2 linked regions of the Homo sapiens genome follow. The protein of the gene in region 2 interacts with the protein of the main gene of each other region in a biochemical or structural test. Each region holds a gene or a part of one and is shown on either strand. Other genes may lie near its edges.

Evidence for each region.
Region 1: the proteins of PPP1R14C (region 2) and CNKSR1 form a complex in vitro, tested with the Homo sapiens proteins (one large-scale study listed by BioGRID).

What each region holds. Positions count from the first base shown.
Region 1 is NC_000001.11:26,183,681-26,187,490, reverse strand, and holds part of CNKSR1 (connector enhancer of kinase suppressor of ras 1), read right to left. Parts: intron 3,763-3,810; coding exon 3,661-3,762; intron 3,421-3,660; coding exon 3,350-3,420; intron 3,278-3,349; coding exon 3,204-3,277; intron 3,091-3,203; coding exon 2,984-3,090; intron 2,907-2,983; coding exon 2,879-2,906; intron 2,478-2,878; coding exon 2,305-2,477; intron 324-2,304; coding exon 250-323; intron 81-249; coding exon 9-80; intron 1-8. UniProt on the Homo sapiens protein: May function as an adapter protein or regulator of Ras signaling pathways.
Region 2 is NC_000006.12:150,149,442-150,153,251, reverse strand, and holds part of PPP1R14C (protein phosphatase 1 regulatory subunit 14C), read right to left. Parts: intron 1-3,810. UniProt on the Homo sapiens protein: Inhibitor of the PP1 regulatory subunit PPP1CA.

The sequences.
Region 1 (3,810 bases), on a different chromosome or scaffold from region 2:
GCACTCACATGCTCAGATCTGTCAGGGTATCAGCAGCGAAGATGAAGGGTTTGTACACATCATGGGTGAGCTGAAACACACTGCCAGGTAGTGGAGGAGCATCACTCAGCCTGGGCGTGCCCACCCACAGCCCAGAGAGGCTGGATTCTGGGCGCCCCAGCCACTTGCCACACCTCCCACTGCTACCCCATCACCCTTCCTCTCCCTTTCTGTCTCCATCCCCCAGCCCATCACACCCCAAGACTTAACTATTTCTTCTTCTGATCATGTCCACTTTCCAGACTATAGTTGGAGACATTGATGAGGCCCTCAGCCTTCTCATCCTGGGGGGATCACAGCATGAGGGTCAGGTTGGAACCCCAATACCCTCAAGGCCCAGTCAGCTCCTAGTTACCCCTCGGGCTCCTGAGAGTTGTGGAGAGGAGAAGGCATCTCCTGGGCTCTCTAACAAGTCTCTCTGTTTCTGGAGCTCAGGGCTGGAATCTGGGGTCAGGGTAGGAGATGTGGCCAAAGGATGCCTCTAAGCCAGGAAAGGGGAGCCAAAGATATCAGAGAAACAGCCAAAAAAAAAAAAAAGAGGAGCCTGAAGGCCGGGCATGGTGGCTCATGCCTGTAATCCCAGCACTTTGGGAGGCCAAGGCAGGAGGACCATTTGAGCCTAGGAGTTTGAGACCAGACTGGGAAAAAAGCCCATTTCTACAAAAAATTAAAAACTTAGGTCGGGTGTGGTGGCTCACACCTGTAATCCCAGCACTTTGGGAGGCTGAGGCGGGCAGATCATGAGGTCAGGAGTTCGAGACCAGCCTGGCCAACATGGTGAAACCCCATCTCTACTAAAAATACAAAAAATTAGCCAGGCATGGTGGCAGGTGCCTGTAATCCCAGCTACTCGGGAGGCTGAAGTAGGAGAATTGCTCGAACCTGGGAGGAAAAGGTTGCCATGAGCTGCGATTGCGCCACTGCACTCCAGCCTGGGCAACAGAGCGAGACTGCGTCTCAAACAAAACAAAACAAACAAAAAACTTAGCTAGGCATGGTGGCATGTGCCTGTAGTCCCAGCTACTCAGGAGGCTGAGGCAGGAGGATCGCTTGAACCTGGGAGGCTGAGGCTGTAGTGAGCTGAGATCATGCCACTGCCCTCCAGCCTGGGTGACAAAGCAAGACTCTGTCTCAAAAACAAAAACCAAAAAACCAAACAAGAAGAGCTTGCTCATGCATTTGTTCCTTCAGTAGACACAAACCAAACTGCTTCACACCCCTGAGCTTTCTGAATGCTGCTTTCTCTTCCTGGTTTTCTTTCCCCTTCCCATGCAACTAACTGCCAGGTATTGCATTGTCAGGGGGCATCTGGACTCCTCAGGATGGACTGGACACCTCTGCTGTGCTCCCACATATCCCTTGGGCTTTCCCTTTATCTTAGCACACGGTCCCTACATTGTCCTTGAGTGTGTATTCATCCCTCTCCCCTACTAGCCTCTAAGTTCTGGAGAAGCAAAAATCATCCAATTCTTCTCTGTGTCCATAGTGCCCAGCCTAGAGCTGGGTTCACAGTAGGCACCTGAATCCTGAATGAATAAATGAGTAAATGAATGGCCCATCATTCGGATGGACAGAATATCAGAAGGATAAGGAGAAGTGGGCAGAATAGACGTGATTTTTCGGCCAGATGTGGTGGCTCACGCCTATAATCCCAGCATTCTGGCGGGCTGAAGCAGGCAGAACGCTTGAGCCCAGGAGTTTGAGACAAGGCTGGGCAACATAGCAAGACTCCATCTTGCTATGTTGCCCAGATTTTTCAGGGCCGGGTGTGGTGGCTCACGCCTGTAATCCCAGCACTTTGGGAGGCCGAGGCAGGTGGATCACGAGGTCAGGAGATCGAGACCATCCTGGCTAACACGGTGAAACCCTGTCTCTACTAAAAACACAAAAAATATGCTGGGCGTTGTGGCGGGCGCCTGTAGTTCCAGCTGCTCGGGAGGCTGAGGCAGGAGAATGGCGTGAACCCGGAAGGTAGAGCTTGCAGTGAGCCGAGATGATGCCACTGCACTCCGGCCTGGGCAACAGAGTGAGACTTTGTCTCCAAAAAAAAAAAAAAAAAGATTTTTCTCTATACCTCCTATGATACCTTTTCCAAACTGCTTTTATACATATATTAACTCATTTCTCTCTGAATAAAGTCCCCATTTTACAGATGGGGACATCAAAGCCTTGGACCAGGAATAAGAGTGGATGATAGAATAGAGATGAGAATCGAGGCCTGGAAGTGACTCACTTGCCTACCTGTTTTTGTGTATGGGGTCTTACCTGGGGCTGGCGGTACCAGTAGAGCGTGTGTCCCTTGAGCACAAACCAGCGGCGGCGCCAGCGCGGGCCCATGAAGCCGCCCGGTGCCTTTCGCAACAGGAGCCAGCCGTCACAGTCCGGCCGGCCCAGCTCACGGCATGACACCCGCCGGCGGCTCAGCCGGGTCGCCAGGCCTGTAGCAGCACAGCACAAGCTGGGCAGTGAGGGGCTGGCAAGGTGCCCCCGCTAAACCTACTCCCTGCCTTCCACAAGCATCCCCAAGTGAGATCTCTGAACCCACACTCTGCTCAGAATGCTACATGTGTCATCTCTGAGGTGGGATGACCCTTCTTATTTTAGAGATGAGCAAACTGAAGACTAGAGGCTAACCTGTTTGCTCAGTCACAGCAAACAGGTTAGCCTCTAGTCTGGTGAGAGGCCCAGACTGGGAGCACAGCTCTGTCTGACCCTAGAAACAGAGCTGTTTCCAGGAGAGGCTGTGTGGGAAGGATGGGGGTGGTCTTGCCCAGCATGTAAAGATTTTTAACAGCTCCTCAAACAGGGGAACCCCCACCTAGTCCAGCGCACCTCATACCTTTTGATTTCTTCCGACCAACAGGACTCTGAAAGGACAGCAGAAGGGTGAGAGAAGGATCTAGGTCCAGACCCACCCACCCCCTTGCTAAGCCCCTGAGCTTACCTTGTCAGGGGATTCAGGGAGCCCTGGAGTCCCTGCTACCCCTGCTGGGAGTATGGCTGGGGGTTCCGGGGGGATGGGCAGGGGCTCAGGGCCAAGGGAGGCAGAGTCTGTCAGGGAGGGAGGAGAGAGAGGGAAAGTCTATGAGCCCAGTCCCAGGCTTGGGGTCAGAACTGGGTGCCCAGATGCCGTGTCCGGGGCATCCATGGAGCTTTGAGACTACCTGTCCAGGCAGGGCTGGGTCCGGGACTGGGGTTTGAAGACAGGTCAAAGGCAAAGACGTCTTCAGATGGGGCCCTGGGGAGGGCAAGGGGGATGAGATGAGCCCACGGTCTCCCCACCAAGACACACCTGGACAGAGCCTGTTACCTGGGAGACAGTGGGGCCAGAGACAGTGATGGGCTCCTCTGGTGCGGGGAGTCCAGGACCTGAGGGGGCGTCTGGGGAACAACCAGGAACAAAGCAATGGAGACAGGGGTCTGAAAGCAGGTTGGGGGGCAACAGGGGTAGGGGAGCAGCAGGAGCAGGTACCTGTGGGGGGGTCTGAAGGGAGCTAGGGGGGCGCAGCAGGGGAAGGTGCCTGTTGGGGGGGGTCTGAAGGCAGGTGTGGGGGTGGTGGGGGCAGGTACCTGTGGAGGGGGGGGTCTGAAGGCAGGTCGGGGGGCGGCAGGGGAAGGTACCTGTGGGGGGGTCTCCGGTATCGGGATCTTCTTCAGCACTAAGCTGAGTCCGGCTGGCTCCCGCAGCAGTTCCCTCACCATGTTCTTACGGGGCCATCCCACCTGGGGGACAGAAACACTGGCTGGTATCAACCTGGGCAGGAGGCTCTA
Region 2 (3,810 bases):
ATATGCTTAATTTTGGGAACACATTTCTGAAATGCACATCATGTAACCAGAAGATGCAGCCACTGTCACTCACTGACAGTCAAATAAATAGCACAGACTGAGTGGCTCAACAACAAGCATTTCTGTCTCACAGTTCTAGAGGCTGGAGGTCTGAGATCAGGGTGCCAGCATCCTCCTCCTGGTCTACAGGTGGCCGTCTTCCATCTTCTTGCTGTGCTTTCACGCTGTGCCCTTGCATGGCAGTGAGAGCGAGCTCTGGCCCCTTCCTCCCCTTTTAAGGGCATTAATCACATCACAGGACCTCCACCCTCACGACCTCACCTAACACTAATGACCTCCACGAAGTCCTCCCTCCAAATACCATCACTCTGGGGACTAGCGTTTCAACCTATGAATCTGGGGAGACACAAACATTCAGTCCATAGCAGAGACACCCAAGTGCAGCCAGGTGTGTGAGAGTCACCAGGGCTGCAAAGGTACAAGATTCTGCCTTCAGGAGGCTGCAGTGAGGGTGGGAGACAGGATTACAGAAAGAGGGACCCTGGAAAGGCCACAGAGCCAGCCTGACAGCAGGAGATGGATCAGAGAAGCTCCTGGGAAGGCACTGCCAAGTACCAGGCTAAGAACAGGTGCAAGCTAGACAGCTAGGGAGTGGGGGCAGGGGAGGGGGTGGAGGTGATTATGGCAGAGGGGCTCCTGCTGAGCTGCCTTAGGGACTCAGCTGATAGCTGAAACAGCAGGGCTGGGGGTGCCTAGAGACAAGTCCAGAGACTGGGGCAGGGAAACCCCTGAGCCCTGGTCACGTGCTAAGGGGCTCCTGCTTTATCCTGAAGGCTGTGCGGAACAAGATCCCACCTGGATTTTAGAAAACACACTAGCTGCAGCCCATGGAGGTGGCTCTGAAGCACCGTGGGGAGCTGGAGCAGGGACAGAGCGGGAGGCCCAACCCAGGAACCAGAGACCCTGCCACCTGCCCGCCATGTGGCCTCTGACGGAGGCCTGCAGCTCAAACTCCCTGTACTTCAGTTTCTTCACCTACCTTGCAGAGTTACTGCGAGGATTAAATTAGCACCCATGAAGGACAAGGTTTGCAATCAGCACTTCTTTTTTTTTTTTTTTTTTTTTTTTTTTTGAGACGGAGTCTCGCTCTGTCGCCCAGGCTGGAGTGCATTGGCGGGATCTCGGCTCACTGCAAGCTCCGCCTCCCGGGTTCACGCCCTTCTCCTGCCTCAGCCTCCCAAGTAGCTGGGACTACAGGCGCCCGCCACTACGCCCGGCTAATTTTTTGTATTTTTAGTAGAGACGGGGTTTCACCTTTTTAGCCGGGATGGTCTCGATCTCCTGACCTCGTGATCCGCCCGCCTCAGCCTCCCAAAGTGCTGGGATTACAGGCGTGAGCCACCGCGCCCGGCCGCAATCAGCACTTCTTAAATGGAGCTACTGGGAGCAATGGGAGCATCATAGCTAAGTGACTTTGGAATCAGTGTGAACTTGGACAAGGACAAGGGACAACTTCTCAGATCTCAGCTGCTTTCTCCAAAAAATGAAGAAATGAAGATAACACCATCTCCTTCATAAAGTTGTTGGGAGGATTGATGGTATGAGGTAAGATGCATAAATCTCCTGGCTGTCACCTGAGAGCTGGGTTAGTCCCAGCAGTAGTAGAAACAATAGCAGCAGTGGTGGAGGGTGCAGTAGCAGAAAGAGTGGTTGCCGTAATTTGAAAGAAACTGGACTACAGTGACCATTGCTATTATACAGGTGAGAAGTTACAAGGAGCTGGATTAAGGCAGTGGCAGGGACCAGTGGGGACTCATATTCCAGAGCTGTAGGAGCATCAACAAGACTTTGTGACTCCTGGGTGTGACAGCAAGGAGGAGGCAAGAGATAAGCATGCCACGTAATCTTGGGCTGGGACAACTGTGCACAGCAGCGCCTGCCGCCCACTGAGGGAAGTGAGGAAGAGGAGCAGGTTTCCTAAGGAAGATGAGAAACTCATTTTCAGACCAGTTGAATATGAGGTTTCTCTGGGGTACTAAGTGGCACTGTCCATTTCAAAGTTGTCTGAATACATCTGGCACTCAGAAAACAGATCAGGGCTAAAAATACAGAGTCACACGTTGTCCGCATATGGACAGCAATTAAAGCCACAGGAAGGGTCTTATCATCCAAAAACAGCACGCAGGAGTGAAGGAAAAAAAAACAAAACAAAACAAACAACAAAAAAAACAGAGAGCCAGGGCCCGAAGACAGAGAAATGTCATCACTGAAGAGCAGGCAAAAGAGGAAAAACCCAGAAAGGGAAGGAGAAAGACGGAGCGGCATGTGCGGTGGGGGAATACAGGGCGGAGGAGGGGAAGGTATTTGTGTGGTAGTGGGGGATGGTGGTGGTTTAAACAGAAGAGAGAGACTTCAACTTGTGTATATGCTGAAATGAATGGGCCAGAGAGGTTGAAAACTCAGCCAAGAAAGGGGTGTCGTGAATGAAGTGCCTGGAGGGTGGCTGGTCTAGCTTGCAGAGGAGGAGACTGGGAGGGCAGAGAACAGAAGAGGTGCCTTGAAAAGACAGGTGAAGGCTTGAACTAGCCCAGTGCAGGAAACAAGAGCAAGAGCATGCACTACAAAGTAAACCATGTGGCCAAAGCATGTGCCACATGGAAAATAAAATTCAGATTTGATTCTTCCCTCCATCTAGAAAGAGACTTCTTGACAGAGAGCTGTGGGCTAGGCGAGGGAGACCAGGGGCTGCCAGGTTGTTTTAGGCTGAGAGGAAAAGGACAAACAGAAGACAGCAAAAGCAAACATGTACCCACAGAGATGAGAACAGCAGGCAGAACTAGTGTAGCAGGGGCACGTTAGGAGCAAAGGAAAAGACAGTGGGTGGGACTCAGGGAAGATCACATTTGCAAAAGAATTCTGTCAACCTAAACTTCAAAGTCAATTGGCTACCATTACCACCTTTCAGTTCCTGTTTGGAGCAAGTAAGTCAATGAAGAAAGGTGTATTTTCCAACAGCACTGACATAAAGCTGTAAGGATGCAAGAATGTGATATGACTACAGTAACAAAAACACAGATTGACTTTTGCCCTCGCCATGTCTATGATAAAGGAATATCACCAATTAGTTCAGATACAGAAACATCAATGACTTTTAAACATTTGCTGAACATTGATCCTTTTTCATTCATTCAAGCAAATGCTTAAATGTTGAAGAATTGTGTCCCGCTATGAACTTTTAAATGATGAAAATTAAGACAGTTCCTTGCCTTCAAGTTGTTACAGTCTAACTTCCCTGCACATATGTAAAAATCCACCAAAACATAGAGAATGAGGAAGGCTCTAGAAACAGGAGGAACAGTTTAGAGAATATTTGCCCATGTTCAAGTTCAAACATACACCAACACCCCTGACCCTAAAGTAACCCTATACTCTTCTCCAAATTATTGCACCAAATAGATGTGAATACCTTGTTTTCTTCACCCCTTTCCTCTGTCTCCATCATAGAGAATAACCAACAGTTAGTGGCAGCTTGTGGCTCCAATAACAACACTGACATGCTATGTCCTAAGTACTATGCTTGGTGTCTCACCAATCAGTCCTCCTGACAGCCCTGCAAAGGCACCAGGATGATTTCCTTCAACATACAGAGAAAGTAGCCGGGCGCAGTGGCTCACACCTGTAATCCCAACACTTTGGAAGGCTGAGGCTGACGGATCACTTAAGCCCAGGAATTCGAGACCAGCCTGGCCAACACAGTGAAACCTTGTCTCCACAAAAAAAAAAAAAAAAAAAAAAAGAAAAAAAAAAATT